2 separate regions of the Homo sapiens genome follow, and region 2 is linked to region 1. Evidence: fine-mapped expression QTL. A gene starts in region 1. The other region holds a variant in brackets. All regions are shown on one strand. Distances are from middle to middle.

Region 1 (8,777 bases):
TCCTAATGATACAGTAGATACAAGTAAAGCTGCCTTGAGAGAGATTATGAAACAAACAAAATAGAGTACTTTTAAGAAAACCTAAATTGTCTACATCTGCTATAATGTATGCTCCAAGAGGGGAAGAAGGTCTTTGTTTTGTTTGCTAACTCTTCTCCAGTGTCTGAACAATACCAGACACATGGCAGGTTCCATGAATTAACTAATCTATACATCAGCTGATGTATCATTAGTATCATTCTGGTAACAACCAACAACAAAAAGTAAAGGCTCATACTCTTGATTATTCTTAAAATGTAGTGGAATGAAAGAAGGAAACTGCTACTTTGGCTGCTTTTAAGTCTGAGAACCACATTTCCTTCTGATTTGCCAAGTGCTTCTCAGAATTAAGAGTCCTGTCAGCCAGACAAATGAAAAAAGCCATTCCAAGCAAAGGGAAGGTTTAGCAGTGGCAAATGCCATGGCATATTTTGAGAAACAAGGGGAATACTGATTTCAGTGTGTCTAAATCATAGCACATGTATATTGGACAGAAATGGTAAAGAATGACAGATGTGGTTCCAAAGGTTGGAGCGCAGTTTGAAAAGAGGTTTGTAAGACATTTGAAATGTTTAACCATATCTCATTTAACCCAAGAAATTGCACTATCAGCTTTATGTTACAGAACAATAATCCTGGCAGCTGTATAGAGGATGATGGAAAAAGGATTAGTCACACAGCAATGTGCTGAAGTTGCCTCTTATTGGCTCTTGAGCACAGACTGTTACATTTTCAGGAATTCTGTGAGCCAGTTGACCTTTCACACAGATATCTTAAAATCTACGATGGTGAGAGTATTTACACCATGGTAATCAGCAAACACTACAAAAATCAGGGCTTTTTCTATTTTCCCACAAAGCCAATTAACCAATACACCCAAGAAATAGAACCACAGAGGCCAGTAAAGTACTATGTTAACAGCCTAAGACATAATGAAGGCCCGACTAAGACCTGAATAAGTGGCACTAAGAATGTCAAAGTGACAAATTTGACAAATATTCACACTGCACAGGATGTAGGACTTAGTGACAAGCTGAAAATGGGTGATTAGGTAGAACAAACAAGGATTCCCAAATTTCTGGATTAAGCAACTGATACAGGAAATTTAGTTTTACACTAACTTAGACCACTAGACACTGAATATACCAAGATGAACATAAACTTCTGCCTCCAAGGAATTCATAATTTACAAGGGGAACAAGCACACATTTACCTAACAACATAGTAAACACAGATAACAGAAACTACCAGAGGAAAAGATTAGGAGAGAAGAACAGAAAAAGTGAATTCATTTCATTTTTTCATATGTAAACCTTGTACTATTTGTTCATATGTAGGTTTTCATGTGTATTATAGAACTAGCACTGCTTGTTTACTATCAAAATAGAAATGTCCATACAGGTTATGGAATGGCATATCATAAAAAAATTAAGATAGAAATGTCCAGTAGGCAGTTAAAAATATAGTTTTATAATTCAGAAGACAGGTAAGGAGCATACTGAAACCACAGACAAGACCAGATGATTTAGGAAAAAAAAGTTTTAGAATGCACAAAAAGGCAGGAAAATGAGGAAGATAGGAAAGTGGGGGGTGGACAGAGAAAATGAAAGCAATCAAAGAGACTAAAGAGTGCTCAGGGAGAAAGAGAAACAAAAAAGAATGGCAAAAGCCAAAAGAAGGGATAAAGAAAGTAAGTATTAGTATTGTCATAGAGCTTACAAAGATCAAACACAACGGGATGTGGCATTTGAGGGCTGACAGCCTTTAAAGAGATGAATTATATAATGCTTCTCTTTTATAGTTTCCTCATTCCCATAGAGGGCATATCAGAAACACCTCACCAATTTTCATACTATGCATCTGTGCTCACCAAGCCTATCAATCCGATACTCTGTCATTGGCCAAATCCCCGATATAGTGAATCAAAGTTTCTGCTGGAAATGCTTAATTCCTCAGGAATGTTGGGGGTGGAGGGGCAACAGAGACCGCTTAATTCAGAACAAACTGAACTGACAAGTATCTACAGGAACCTGGAAAAGAGCACCTAGAGAATTAAGAATTTTTAAAAAGCACGGCACCCATAAACCGCATGAGGAAAGTATTTCAAGAAAGGAATCAAATGTTATTACAAGTTAAAGGACCAAAAAAGTGTCCATTTGTCGTATGTGCAAGAAAGTCATTGAAAACCTTGCAAAGTTACTTCAATGGCATAGATTGAGGGTGACTGAGTCCCCAGGAAACAGGAAGAAAAAATCCAGAGCAAAGTAGGAGGCACTATCCTTAGAACGGAGCAGAGACTCGGCCGGGCGTGGTGGCTCACGCCTGTAATCCCAGCACTCTGGGAGGCCAAGGCAGGCAGATCACGAGGTCAGGAGATCGAGACCATCCTGGCTAACACGGTGAAACCCCGTCTCTACTAAAAATACAAAAAATTAGCTAGGCATAGTGATGGGCGCTTGTAGTCCCAGCTTCTCAGGAGGCTGAGCCAGGAGAATGGCGTGAACCCCGGAGGCAGAGCTTGCAGTGAGCCGAGACTGCGCCACTGCACTCCAGCCTGGGCAACAGCGCGAGACTCCGTCTCAAAAAAAAAAAAGAAAGAAAGAAAGAAAGGAGCAGAGGCTCCACTTCCGTTGCAATTGAAAAGGCAAGGGAAAAAAGGTGCAACAGATGGTTATACGTTGAGGTTAAATTCATAGGTTTGATGGGCAAGAAATGGAGAAAGTTCACATCTGATGGATCCTCTTTTTCTCCCCAGGGAAGCTTAAAGTCATTTGTTGAGCTTGAAGCGAAAGGTTTGAAAAGGGTAAAGAAGATTTAAACAATCACTGTGGAGAATGGCAGAGAACCAAGGAGGAAAATACAGAAGGCAGAACTGAAGAGTATTTACCGTCCAAGAACTGATTACAATTCCTGAAATACATCCTACTGAAACATATATCCAATGTTCCACTGTTCACCTGGGGAAGTCCTGTCTACAGTTTAAAACGTCTCCACCTAGAAAGCCTTTTCTGACATTTCCTAACCAGTTTCCAACCCCCAGTTATCATTCTCCTCTGTATTAATGCTCTACTTTATATGCAATCCTACTGCTATCTTACATCACTATATTACAGCACCTACCTTTATAGTCTACAAGATTATTTCCTCTACTAGATGGTGAACTACTTGAGGGCAAAAATTGCACGTGTATCAGGAGCAACTGCAAATATATCAGGGTCTCTGCCTTGTATCTAAAGTTTAAATTCAGTTTAGCCAAGTTTTAGACAGAGACCCGGTCCTAGAGTTTCCAACATGAAATAGTTCAGAAAACATCATTGCTTTTGACAAAAGTACATAAATTATCATGAAAAGGCACGTAATTCAGGATGACAATAAAATATTTAACAGTCAGAGAAAATAAACAATAATTTGGAACTTTATTTCATTTATTACCCACTTCGGTCTTCAAATGTGTGCATGTGCTTCTAACTGCGATGATGAATTTAAAAAACATTCTGCACCTACTGTATGCAAGATACTGCTATTCACACTGTGGGATATTAAAAAAAGTTTGCAATACAGAAGAGATTAAAACAAGTATACAAATGATTTTAGTACAAGGTAGAATGCGATGGCCACTAGAGAAAAAATTAAGAACAGGTGAGAAGGGCTTTATTTTTATGCTTATAAATGTGAACTTTATTCTGAAGGATAAGAGATTCGGGACATGGTAACTGGATTGACACAACTGAATATGCTTTTCAAGTATATTATATCTAACTTTTCTTATTTTGGGCAACTTCTCTCCAAACTGACTAGCAATAAAATCTGACTGCTAGATTCTGTACAAATGGTTAATCCCAACCTGAACAAATGTCTCAAACCCTCCCCCACGTGTCACTGTAGATAACTGCCTCATAAAGGAGGAAAAAAAAAACCAGCCTGTAAGAGGGGTCACCTGTACAGTCCATTTGTTAAAGGAGTAAGCGTTTCCAGCTCTACTTTAAAACAAGGCCCTATTTCATTATGCGTCTGCCGTCTGTTCTAGAGCTTACACTTTTGAAGAGCTCGAACGCTACACCCCTTCGTCAAGAACTGCGGCAGCAGCCGGTGGCTGCCAACGCGGTCCACAGGGTTTGGGCTCCCGAAACTTCAGGGAAGCTGGAGGCATGGGGGGGGGGGGGGTCGAGTTGAAATGAGGAACACACAGAAACCAAGTGTCCCCAAGACTCCAGAAAAGAGGGAGCCAGTCCCAGAGTAAATAGGTTGGCTAGAACAGTACCCAAGCCAGGGGGCCGGGCGGAGGGGAGTGGTCACGTCCAGACTGGAAAACTTTCTGCAAAGCAACGGGTTGGGTCCACCTCGCTGTCCAGGTGCGGAGCAGCGCAGACCCCCAACCCCACGACCTGGTCAGACCCCGTCTCCTTACCGTCCTGCAGAAGTTCCCGGACTGTAGCTGCAGCCGCTCCAGAGCCTCGAGCTCCGAGGCCAGCTACAGCGACGCTGCCGCCGCCACCTTCCATGTTGGCAGGTGCCGGGTTGATGTCGTCAGCAGCAGAACGGCTCCGCCCAGGTGGTGACGCAGAATCCCGGCGCCGCCCGCCCACCCAGCCCATGGCTCCAGGCCCACCTGGCGAACTGACTCTCAGCCCGCGCCTGGGCTAAGCCTGGCTAGGAGCCGCGCAGGTACTCGAGCAGTGGGCGCCCAGGGTCCGAGTGCTCTGCGCCCAGCGCACCGAGGGAGCCAAGGCCGTCGGGCCGGCGCTTTCAGCTGTCTCTCGCAGCAGCTCAGGGCCGCGCCCCCTGGGCTGGCGTCGTGCCCTAGCCAAGGAGAAGGTGGGCACCGGAACGTGGCCGCAGCGCTTATCTGTGAAGCAAGTATTAAACCTCAGAACAGGGGCCGCGCGGCGTAAGGCAGGAGAGCAGAGCGGAGGTTTCAGGGAGCTTCGTTTGCCCTCCACACTCACAAGAGTCACGCGTTAGTTGCTACACAGCTTTATCTGTTCCACGCCTTGATTGGCACTCCTGGGGTAATAAAAGCCCGCAGGAAATGCTTGGGAAGAAAAGTTGCTGGGGATGAACAGTGAAGAGAATTAGGGAGAGTCGATGAAGAAGGAAGTCTGAACCATAAAAGGACCAATAAAACTCACTGTCTCTACCCTCCTTCCTTCCCATGAGACCTTTGACCTTTTGCCTTTTCTACTTCTTCCTCAGTTTCAGTCACGTGCCAGACTTTTTCTTAATTACAAACTGATAGATGGTCCACATCTCAACTAACAGTATTGACGCTGTAAGAGCATCAGGTTGGTTCCCATTGTATCTTCTTTACTAATACGTTCGCGTTTTTGACCTAGATTTCTTTCTTCTAAGATAAATACTGATAAATTAACAGGGTCAGGCAACCACAAGTATGCAAGACAGTCTTAAGCTTCTTCGCAAAAAGAAGCTGGAAGATGACTTTTTCATTTTGTACAGTAGGTATGTATCCAGGAAACCAATTTTATCCAGTTCCAGAGCTACGTGGTTTTCTACATTCTGTTTCAAAAAGGTGCTATTACTTATCCTGTGCTTATCGCTGTTCTAAGTATTTTATAACTCAATGCATTTCATACTCATAACACCTCAGGTAAGCAAGTCTTATGCTACACTGCATTATGCTCTCTTTGTCTCAGAGGATTTTCCCTAGTATGTAAGATCTTAGTCATGATGGGAATAGGGGTGATTCATTCATTACTTGTGAATTAGGAATTGTTTTTCCTTCCTTGGCTTTATTCCCCCCAGTGGAAGATTTTAGAAGAGTGAGTAATATTCATTCATACAGCGAAAGTTTTGACCCCTCTACTCTGCATGCTCTCATGAGTTTACAAACATAAGACTCAATCCATATTCTAAAAGGAGTTAATAGGTAAGGTAGGAACCCATTTAAACAAACAATTGTACCAGGTGCTTTGGAATCTTTGGATTTACTTATTCCAGTAATTCCAAGCTTAGCTGCACATTGAAATCACCTGAAGAGCTTTAATAAAAACACTGATGCCTGCATCCTGAGCCCAGACGTTTGGATTTAATTGGTCTAGGGTATGGCTTGGGCATGCTAATTCTTAAAAGCTCCTCGGGTCATTGTAGTGTACAACTAAGGTAGAAAGCTACTGATTGTTTTGTTTTGTTGAGTTGGGGTCTAGCTCTGTTACCCAGGCTGGAGTGCAGTGGCAGGATCGTGGCTCACTGCAGCCTCAACCTCCTGGGCTCAAGGGATCCTCCTGCCCAAGCTTCTGGAGTAGTTGGGATCACAGTCGCTTGCTACCACGCCCAGCTGATTTTTATAATTTTTTTAGAGATGGGGGTCTCACTATATTGCCCAAGCTGGTCTCAAACTCCTGGCCTTAAGCAAGCCTCCCACCTTGGCCTCCCAAAATGCTGAGTTTACAGGTGTGAGCCCAGTCCCCTGAAACCTACTGATTTATTCTTTCAGCAAATAAATATTGAGGCCTTCTGTATGCCATTTACTATGACTGCAGGAGTGGATAAAAATGAAGTAATTCTTGCTAAAATCACTAATGACCTTGTTGCCATTGCGCTTTATTTTTGCCTTACTTTGATGTTTAAGATACCTATCCCCTCCTTCCTTCATAATGGTCTCTCTCGTTTTCTGAGTATCACTCTTTAGGTTTATTCCTCCCAGCTCCAAAGTTCATCTTCAGTCTCTTTTGCTCTCCCCTTTTCCTCTGTTACTTAAATATTGGTGCTTCCAGCGGTTTCTTGCAAGATCCTGACATCCTTAAGTACCTTGGCTATTTTTAATTTCAACTCCTTGCCTAAAGGTTAAAGACTCTAAAGTTTGAGCAATTAGACCATTCTAAAGTTGGCCCATATCTGATTCTTTTTTTTGTTGTTGTTATTTTCTGCTTCATTTTTCCTTCATACATACCTGTTTCTAAGTTACTGAGGCCAAGGACTGGAATATGAAAAGTAGCCAACACTGTGAAATAGTAGGATTTTAAGTATAGCAAATGTAAAACATTTACAAACTCCATAATTTCATCACTCGTACCTGTACCTCTTGGGGTATAAAAGTGATTTACAATGCAATTGTAGAATTATAATTGAAATTTTCACTAGATAATATCACATTAAAATTTTTAAAAATAATTAACGTTTGTTTATCTTCTGATTCACAGACAGAACAGGATTCAAGAATTACAATAAAAGCACCAGCATATCTTTTGAAACACTGACTACTTAAGAGTTGCTCTATTAATGCCATTTAACTTTCCTGAATAAAACAAGATATTTCCAAATGCCAGTCGAGTATCATATATAAAATAATTCAAACCAAATTTCTTGGCTTACCAATCCCAACAAAGTAACATGTAAAAAATTTTTAAATAACATGAAAACTTACAACATGGTAAACTAGGGAAAAAAAAAAAATCTCGTTTTCTGCATCTTGTGTTTCCACAACTATCTTGGGTAGTTTTCCACATCTATTTATCTTACAAATAGAGGCAGCATTCTATAGTATCATATTGGATACTGTGAAAATAAGCTATTAATAAAAAAATTTCTGAGCCCACAAGCCTGATAAAAAATATATGTTGTTGGCAGTTGAAATTGTTAGAATGGAATTAATATAGTGAAAACATATTTTCTCTATACAAGCTTATTGTCTTTTTCAGATTTGAAACATATCTGTATTAATGAAGAGTGACTGCATGCAAACGACAATATGTCAGGAAAGAAAAAAAGATCCCATAGAAATGTTTCATTCTGGACAGCTGGTAAAAGTCTGTGCCCCAATGGTTCGATATTCAAAGTAAGTGTTGCAAAATGATTAATGAACTAAGATGAAATTTCCCTTTTATGCTCTGACTTTTTAAAAGTACTGTAAGACCACCCACCATATGGGAACTTCAAACTCTTAGCTTTGGAATCATGACTTAGAATTGAGTCATGATGCTACTACTTGCCTAGTATATATGTGATCCTGAGTAAACAATTAACTTCTCTGAGCTGCACTTTTTATATCTATAAAAATGGTGGTGGTTGTAACTCCTACCTATAAGTATATAATGGATATTAAATAGATATAAGTATTGATGTATAGATTTTTATGTGAACTTAAGTCTTGGGACAAATAGGAGTGCAATTATGGGTCCTAAGGTAGTTGTGTGTTCAGTTTTCGAAGAAATATTTCTTCGTATCTTTTGCTCATCTTCTAATTGGATTGTTTGCTCTTTTACTATTGAGTTTTTTTAGAAGTTTGTTATAAAATATACGTAACATAAAATTTACCTCTCGATCATTTTTAAGTATACAGTTCAGCAGTGTTAATTACATTCACATTGTTGTGCATCTGATCTCTAAAACTCTTTTCATCTTAGAAGATGGAAATTCTATCACATTAAACTGTGACTCCCCATTCCACTGTTCCTCACAGCAGCCCCTGGCAACCATTATTCTACTTTCTCCCTCTATGAACTTCACTACTCTAGGTACCTCATATAAGTCTTATACGTATTTGTTCAGAACTGGATTTATTTTGCTAATATTTTATGCAGCATAACATCCTCAAGGTTCATTCATGTTGTAGCATATATCAGACTTGTTCCTTTTTAAGGCTGAATAATATTCCATTTTATGTATATTTTGTTCATTCATCTGTTGATATCCATTCATATATTGATAGAACACAAGATAACTTCCACCTTTTGGCTACTGCAAATAATACTGTCATGAACTATGGGTGTACAAATACCCAT
Region 2 (8,777 bases), 930 kb before region 1:
GTGACTGATGTCCTTATCAGAAGGGGAGATGTACACACAGACAGACACACAGGAAAGAAGGCTGTGAGACAGTGGACGTAGATTGAAGTGATGCAGCTACAAGCCCAGGAATACTGAGGGATTGCCAGCAACTAACAGAAGCTAGAAAAAGGCAAGGAAGGGTTATTTTCTAGACGCCTCAGAGGAAGTATGGTCCTACTGACACCTTGATTTTGGACTTCTAGCTTCTGGCACTGTGGGAGAACACATTTTTGTTTCTCTTAAGCCCCCAGTGTGTGGTACTTTGTTATGGCAGCCCTAGAAAACTAATACAGTTGTGTTGGAATAGAGGCACCCACTTTTGTTCATAGTCCAGTTTTTTCATGACAGTTTGACTGACATCAGCTGACAACCCGTAACAGCTTTCTTTGTTCCATTTGTAATATACAAAGATCTTTAAAAATTATCAACCCTGTCCCTGGGGCTTTTCCAGTTGAAACCTCAGACTGTCTTCTAGCATAGAGGAAATCAAGTGTTCTAGATCAGAGATTGGAAAAGTGTCTGTAAAGAGACAGATAGTAGATATTTTAGGCTTTGCAGACCAAGAGGCAAAAGTCTTATATAACTACTTATAAAACAAGAAAGAAAACACATTTTCATGCATTTTTTACTGACAAAATTTAAAATATAAAAATAATTGTGTATAATTTTTTTGTAGTACAGGTCTAATAATGACTGGAATTCTTTTGAGGGTAATAACATTTCACTGCATTGGGATTCAAATGTGATTGGCCCATTATCAATGTTGATTGCTAATGTTCATTTGTTAATGCTGATCTATGCTGAGATTGTATCTCATTGAGTATTGCAATTCCACAAGTGAATGAGTATTTCATCTTTGAAAATATCTTTTTACGCGATAAGAACTGCCAAATACTAATATTGATTCGTGAGCATATGATTTTAATTGAGCATATTGATCACTTGAAAGGCATTTGTAGGGTTCTATTAAATGTTTCCCTTGACATTTTTAGCATATGATTACATTGCAAATTAATAGCTTCCAGTTGAAGGCTCAATGGAAGCCCTTCAAATGTTCGGTTAAATGGATTTTGAAATATGGAAATTTGTTTTGCCCTTGCATTGAGTCCAAAAGATGTTACTGAGACTGCAGTTAGAACTCAGAAAATATAACCACTGCAAATTTGCAAGGAAAATTGCATGGAGATCTCAATTCTTGTTTTATCTTTTAGTAACACTGGATGTGTATAGGGCAGGTTGACATTCAAGTAATGTTAGTTGTTGAAATGACTTTACTGCAGTATAAATTTCTTATATGAGCACTGCTTGGCCTTGTAATTTTAGGTGAAATTCATTAAGAAATACTATGAAGTCTACAGCAAAAACTAATTTCTAAAGCCATTCAGTATTGCTTAGTAGTGGCTGAGGACCGTTCTCATTTTAAACAATTTCAACTTCAGCCCTGAGCTCCAAAAAATTACAATAAAACGTTACCACTGCTGAACCACTGAATTGCTGTGTGGTACAGCAAGTCAGGATATTCAGCTTCTCTTTCTAACAAAAATTCATGGAACTGATTATGGTTATGTCCATGAGAGTGAATGAGTCTACCACTGAAACTTGGATCAATGACACATACCAGATAAAAACATTTTCAGCAAAGAACCCACTAATAAGTAACACAATAAATAACTGTAGATTTTAAATGCCTTACATTTTCCCAACCTTTGTAAATTTATCCAACTAAGCATTTTGCAGCTTCATACATATTTTTACTACCATTAAGTGTGACATATCGTAGTAGATTCCGTCTCAGATTGTACTGGATTAGTATTTTCTCAAATTCTTTGAAAATCTCTTACAATTTCACACATATTTTTACTGTCATCAGATTTGGTATTTCTTAGCAGATTCTACCACAGGTTGTACTAAATTGGTGTTTTCTCAAATTCTTTGAAAATATTCTCACCTCTAGTTGCTCCATGCAGACTATTTATAGAAGCTAATTCTTCAGTCACTTCCAAATTGGCATTGATTCCTTGAATCAGTAACAACTGAGCAGTATCAGTAACATTGTGGGCTCATCGGGAACCAAGAAAAACCACCCTAAATTATTTGTCTTTTTTTTTTAAATTGACTATTGATGTTGCTTCCAATGTCCTCAACTCTCTGAGCAATTGTTCTTACTGGAAGGCTAAAGGTCTTAAACAAGTTTATTTTCTCTGGACACATTTCTTTGGCTGTTGTAATTGATCTCAATTTAGTTAACTCACCATGGGTAAACCGCTTTCCTTGCTTGGCTAACAAGCCACTCAGAAACTTCTTTGGTTGCAAGCTCATTCTCATTTTTTGTTTTTGTGAAGAAATTCTGCTTTGATGAGAAATTCAAGTTTAAATTTTTCTAATCATTGCTTTCCTGTGAGATGAGAATGTCACAATGATTGTTCAGTCTGGTTATGTTGACATCTATTGTATTCTTTTAGCATAACTATATTGTCATTGCATAGTAAGCAAAATGTCTTGCCAAGTAATTCTATTATATAGCAAAGTAATACACACTCCACTGTATCTTAAAAGCTTGATATTCAAAGTCTACTTTTTCTTTCTTGTTATCACTTGATGGGTATTTACTGTTAATAATAAGAAATAAATTTAAGAGAGGGAAAAGAGGAAGGAAGGAAGGGAGAGAGGGAGGCGGGGAGGGGGCAGGGGGTAGAAACAAAAACAAAGAAAGAAAAGAGGCCAGTCGCGGTGGCTCATGCCTGTAATCGCAACGCTTTGGGAAGCTGAGTCGGGCGGATCACCTGAGGTCAGGAATTCTTCAAGACCAGCCTGGCCAACATGGTGAAACCCCATCTCTACTAAAAGTACAAAAATTAGCTGGGTGTGGTGGCATGAACCTGTAAGCCCAGCTACTTGGGGGGCTGAGGCAAGAGAATTGCTTGAACCCAGAAGGTGAAGGTTGCAGTGAGCTGAGATCATGCCACTGCACTCCAGCCTGGGTGACAGAGCAAGACTCTGTCAAACAAAAAACGAAAGAAAGAAAGAAAGAAAGAAAGAAAGAAAGAAAGAAAGAAAGAGAGAGAGAGGGAGGGAGGGAGGGGGAGAGAGAGAGAGAGAGAGAGAGAAAGAAAGAAAGGAAGAAAGAAAGAAAAGAGAAAGAAAGAAAAGAAAAGAAAGAAAAGAAAAAGAAAAGAAAGGAAGGAAGGAAGGAAAAAAAAGAAAGAAAAGGGAAGGAGGGAGGGAGGAATGTCACTGTATGATGCTAGAAATGCAGTTGAATTTTAACTTTCACTGCAATTTACAGCATTCCAAGCAGTAGTGCAAAGTGAGGATCACCATATACAGTCTCTGCCACAGCTACTCAACTTTGCCATTACAGTGTGAAAGGACATAGACAATAGGGAAACAAATGAGCATGACTGGGTTCCAGTAAATTTTATTTGTGGACAGTGAAATTTGAATCTCATAATAACTTTCATGTGTCATGAAATACCCTGATTTATATTTTCCCCAATCTTTTATAAATATAAAAACCATATTTATTCCATGGCCATATAAAAACAGGTGGTCTACCAGTTGTGGCTGGTGGGCTATAGTTTGCTGACTACTACATAGATCATTAGGTCATTTCCAAAGTTCATCCAGCTCTGTGAGCCTAAGATGCCCTTGAGACAGCAATCATCCTAGTTACTTCCTTTATGCAGGGCACCTGTCCACTTCTGTCTGCTTGAATATTTCAAAGAAAGGGATATGCAGTTTGCCTTACAACTTAACTTTTTTTTAACCATTTCATCTACTTTTATTTACTTTTGCCAAATTTATTCTTAGTTTGTTTTCTAATTGTTTACTTTTTTTAAGGAACAAAAAGCACAAAGATGAGAGCCATAATGTGTTACATCATTTGGGATCCATACAAAGGAAAAGACTTTTTTGATCTATTCATGCCCTAAAAATATACATTGCATAACAGTCCCAGAGGCTTCTCAATCCCACAAATGACTTAAGAACCAAAGTTCAAAGACAGACTAGTAGTTGTCAGGGTTGCAGGTAGGGAGAGAAATTAACTACAAAGAAGTAGCACAAGGGAATTTTGTGGTGTGGGGGTAGCAGAACGGCCTATGTCTTGTTAGTGATGATGGCTACAAGATTCTATGCATTTGTCAAAACTCACAAAACTTTACACCAAAAGAGTGAAGTTTACCATATGTAAATCTTAAAAGTGAGTAATAAAGAAACAAAATGTAACAGGGACATTGGTTTGAGCTCCAACATGTTAAGAACTTGGAAGTCATCTATGACATCAAAAGGAGAAAATTGATAGAGAAAATCCATAAAACCAAAAGATGGTTCTTTGAAAACATCAATCAAACTGATAAACTTCTAGCCAGGCTAACCAAGAAAAAAAGGCATAAATTGCTAGTATCACAAATGAAATAAAAATAACCACTACTAATCCCATCAACATTAAAAGGATAATAATAAAAGAATGCTATGAACAGTTCTATGCCCACAAATTTAAGAGAGATATTGGTCTGTAGTTTCTCTTGCTTATAATGTCTTTATTTGGTTTTGTTATTAGGGTAATGTTGGCTAATTCTATGCTAACTTAAATGAAATGGACCAAATCTTTAAAACACATAAACTACTAAAATTCACACAAAGAGAAGCAGATAAGTTGGATAGTCCTATCTTATCAAATAAATTTAATCAAGAATTAATAATCTTAAAAAAAGCACCAGGCCCAGATGGTTTCACTGGTTGAATTTATCAAACATTTAAGTAAAAATGATACTAGTTCTCTACAATCTCTTCCTGAAAACAAAAGCAGAGGGAACACTTCCAACTCATTTTGTAAAGCCAACATTACCCTAATAACAAAAGCAAATAAAGACATTATAAGCAAGAGAAACTACAGACCAATATCT[C/T]GCTTAAGCATAGATGTAAAATTTCTCAATAAAATATTAGTAAATTAAATCTAACTATGTATAAAAAGAATTATACAACATGATCAAGTGAGACTTTTTCCAGGTATGCAAGTGTATTAGTCAGGATTCTCTAGAGGTAGAGAACTAATGGGATATATATAAAGCGGAGTTTATTAAGTATTAACTCACATGATCACAAGGTCCTACAATAGGCCATCTGCAAGCTGAGGAGCAAGGAAAGTCAACCTGAGTCCCATAACTGAAGAACTTGGAGTCCAAAGTTCAAGAGCAGGAAGCATCCAGCATGGGAGAAAGACATAGGCTGGGAGGCTGGGCCAGTCTAGTCTTTTCAAATTTTTCTGACTGCTTTATATTCTAGTCATGCTGGCAGCTGATTAGATGGTACCCACCCAGATTAAGGGTGGGTTTGCCTTTCCCAGCCCACTGACTCAAATGTTCATCTCCTTTGGCAACATCCTCACAGACACACCTAGGATCAATACTTTGCATCCTTCAATCCAATTAAGTTGACACTCAGTATTAACATCACAGCAAGGCTACTTTAACATTTCAGAACAAGTTAATGTAATCTATCACAAGAGGATAAAGAAGGAAAATCATATGGTCATATCCACAGATGCAGAAAAGCATTTGGCAAAATCCAATACATTTGCATGATTTAAAAAGAGAACAAAAACAAAACTCTCAGCAAACTAAGAATAGGGGGATCTTCCTCAACTTGATAAAGCGCATGTAAGACACACCAATAAAAGTTATAGTTAATGGTGAGAAATGAAACACTTTCTGAAATTATCCTATCGCCTGATATAAAGAAGCCAGATAGGTGAAAGACATCCAGAAAGATCACTTTCCTTGTAATCTCTTTAGAGGTTTACAAACCAAAACAAAAAAACCACATGTTGGTTCTTCCTCTTTCTATATTGTCACTTCTTAGAATGGGATCAATAGCCCTCAAATATATCATTCTCTTCCCTCACCCATCAAACCATTTATTTGGGCTTTCTAAGCAGGGATCCAACTTTGAACAATCTTTTTACCTACTTGTAGTGTAACACACTCACCCCTTCCAAACTTTCAACTTTCAAAGTCCACACCTTCCAAGGTACCCTTCTTAACAACTTCCCCATTTAAGTTATATTCATTCCCAAGATACAGATTCTATGACTTCCCTACATAAAAACATGATCAGCTTGATTTTGAATAAAAACTACTCACAAATAGGATACATGTTTCTTCTTCCCATAGCACAGCAAGTTAGAGCCTATATTAATCGACAGAGATGATAACATATCAGGACACCAAGAACAATTCTGATCTGTTGAAGCTTTTCTAGTTCAACTCTGACACTAACGGTTGACTAGTCAACAGCTTGTGATTCTATCTTTAACTAGGTTGAAGAAAACGCAGCTAGTCAGATATTTAGAGTAAAAAACTCTCAGACACTGAAGGGTACCTTACGTCATCAGAGGGAAGTCATGTGCTGTCTCGGAGTTTACTTCTTCATTACTGTCAGAGGCATTCAAACTAGAGTGACTCCATCTTGAATAGTGACTGGGTAAAATAAGGCTGAGACCTAATGGGCTACATTCCCAGGTAGTTAAGGCATTCTTAGTCACAGGATAAGATAGGAGGTTGGCACAAGATACAGGTCACAAAGACCTTGCTGATAAAGTAAAGAAGCTGGCCAAATCCCAGCAAAACCAAGATGGTGACAAAAGTTACCTCTGGTCTTCACTGCTCATTATACGATAATTATATAATGCATTAGCATGCTAAAAGACACTCCCACCAGTGCCATTGACAGTTTACAAATGCCATGTCAATGTCAGAAAGTTACCCTATATGGTCTAAAAAGGGGAGGAACCCTCAGTTCTGGGAATTGCCCACCCCTTTGCCAGAAAACTCATGAATAATCCACCCCTTATTTAGCATATAATCAAGAACTAATAATAATTATAAGCAGCCGAGCAGCCCATGCCTCTGGTCTGCCTGTGAATAAGACATTCTTTTATTTCTTCACTTTCTTAGTAAACTTCCTTTCACTTTATGGATTAGCTTCAAATTCTTTCTTGTACAAGACCCAAGAACCCTCTCTTGGGATCTGGATTCAGACCCCTTTCAGGTAACATTACACACAGCTAAAAGATTACCTGCAAATAGCATGTCTGTCCTTATGCTCTGTTGATTTTTTTGGTTCTACAGGGTAAAATCCAGCGTTGCATAAATAATGGGTGATGCCAAAAATCTTCACTGTTAGTCATTTGTTTAGATGTCAGTTTCAAAACCTGGTTGTCTAGACAGCTAAAACTGGCTGAGTGCAGGGAGTTTCCAATTTCCACAAATGGGAATTGATGGAAAGAGTCAGCTAAGGAAACCAGCCTGAAAGCATGATGTTTCTGGAACCTCAAAGATAAGCCATTAGCAAGCTGAAGAGTCACTGGCAACAGGTTATGCTTTAAACGGTTCATATATAGGAGCTTCTTAAATATAGCTTCAATATAGACTCCACCTAATAACAAATGAATAGCACAGGGAGTAAAACCGAATCACAACAATGACAGCAATCCTTCCAGTAAAGAAGATACCAGGGAGATAATATATGCTGCACAAACTGTACATTTGACAGCTCTAGGGGTTGCCATTTACATAGTATTCCACATAAATCATGCCTGCTAGAGATGTGCAGTGCACAACTTGTGCAACCATAAGCAGAAAACCCCAAAAGATTCTGTCATTAATATATAACAAAAATGCACATGACAAAGAGCACAAATTTTATGTCTGAAGTTATAAGCATTATGAATTGTATTTATTTAAAAGAGAAAGATTGATAAATTGGATTTTGTCAAATTAAAACTTTTATGAAGGACACCTGTATGAGAACAAAAAGACAAGCTACAGACTGGGAGAAAATATTTGCAAATCACATATCCAGCAAAGATCTTTTATCCAGAATATTATATATACAAGTACATGAAAAGAAGCTCTGCAGTATTAACATTTAGGGAAATAAGGTGCCTTTACATATGTAAAAGAATGGCTAATATATATATATATATTTTGGAAGACAATACCAAATACTGGCAAGGATGTTGGGCAACTGCAACTGTCATGCACTGCTGGTGGGATGCACTGCTGGTGGGATGGTACACCTACCTTGGAAAACAGTTTGGCAGTTTCTAATAAAGTCAAACATATGTTTATCATATGACCTCACTCCAGGGTATTTACTCTAGAGAGGTGAAAACATATTCACACAAAAACCCATACAGAGATGCTTATAGCAGTTCTATTCATAATTGACCAAAACTGGAAATAACACAAATGTCATTCAACAAGTGAATGGTTAAACAAACTCTGGAATATCCATACAATGAAAGTTCGCTCAGGAAAAAAAAGGAACTATTGATATATGAATAATATGAATGTATCTCAAAGGCATTACGCGGAATGAAAGAAAACAGTCTAAAAAATTAAATAAAATAAAGTTCTATTTATATGATATTGTGGAAGTGCAAAGCTATGGAGATGGAGATCAGGGGTTGTCAGGGTTAGGGTGGAGGAGGAGTTGACTACAATGGGACAGCATGAGGGAATTTGGGGGGTCCATTGAACTGCTCTATATTTTGATGGGGTGGTGGTTATATGGCTCTGCGCATGTATTAAAGCTCAGCCAGACATGGTGGCTCATGCCTGTCACCTCAATACTGAGACTGAGATGTAATTATTATATACTAATGACAGAATCTTTTGGGGTTTTCTGCTTATGGTTGCACAAGTTGTGCACTGCACATCTCAACACTGAGACTGAGATGAGGTGGAAGGATT

Alleles and levels. Alleles are on the strand shown, and positions count from the first base shown. SD is a standard deviation of normalised expression in the study named.
With allele C in place of T in region 2, the expression in prefrontal cortex of the gene that starts at base 4,616 in region 1 is lower (moderate effect, 0.58 SD a copy in GTEx).

What was found. PIP is the estimated chance that this variant, and not a neighbour inherited with it, causes the effect. A credible set is the group of variants that fine-mapping cannot tell apart.
Region 2: its variant is the best candidate, but not a certain one, in a credible set for the expression of DUS4L-BCAP29 in prefrontal cortex (GTEx, PIP 0.54).

Annotation. Positions count from the first base shown.
Region 1 is chr7:107,559,356-107,568,132 of GRCh38, forward strand. DUS4L-BCAP29 (DUS4L-BCAP29 readthrough) reads left to right here and starts at 4,616. Exons shown (of 13, transcript NR_163941.2): 1 at 4,616-4,854; 2 at 5,233-5,321; 3 at 7,695-7,831. It overlaps COG5 (component of oligomeric golgi complex 5), which reads right to left and starts at 4,565. Exons shown (of 22, transcript NM_006348.5): 1 at 4,448-4,565. The coding sequence starts at 4,541. It overlaps DUS4L (dihydrouridine synthase 4 like), which reads left to right and starts at 4,616. Exons shown (of 8, transcript NM_181581.3): 1 at 4,616-4,854; 2 at 5,233-5,321; 3 at 7,695-7,831. The coding sequence starts at 7,716. RefSeq lists silencers at 4,444-4,654, 4,693-4,792 and enhancers at 4,493-4,612, 5,143-6,342.
Region 2 is chr7:106,633,358-106,642,134 of GRCh38, forward strand. No RefSeq gene overlaps it. Among named protein-coding and RNA genes, the nearest start is that of CCDC71L, 23 kb to the right of the region's middle. The variant C/T (reference allele first, on the strand shown) is at 4,929.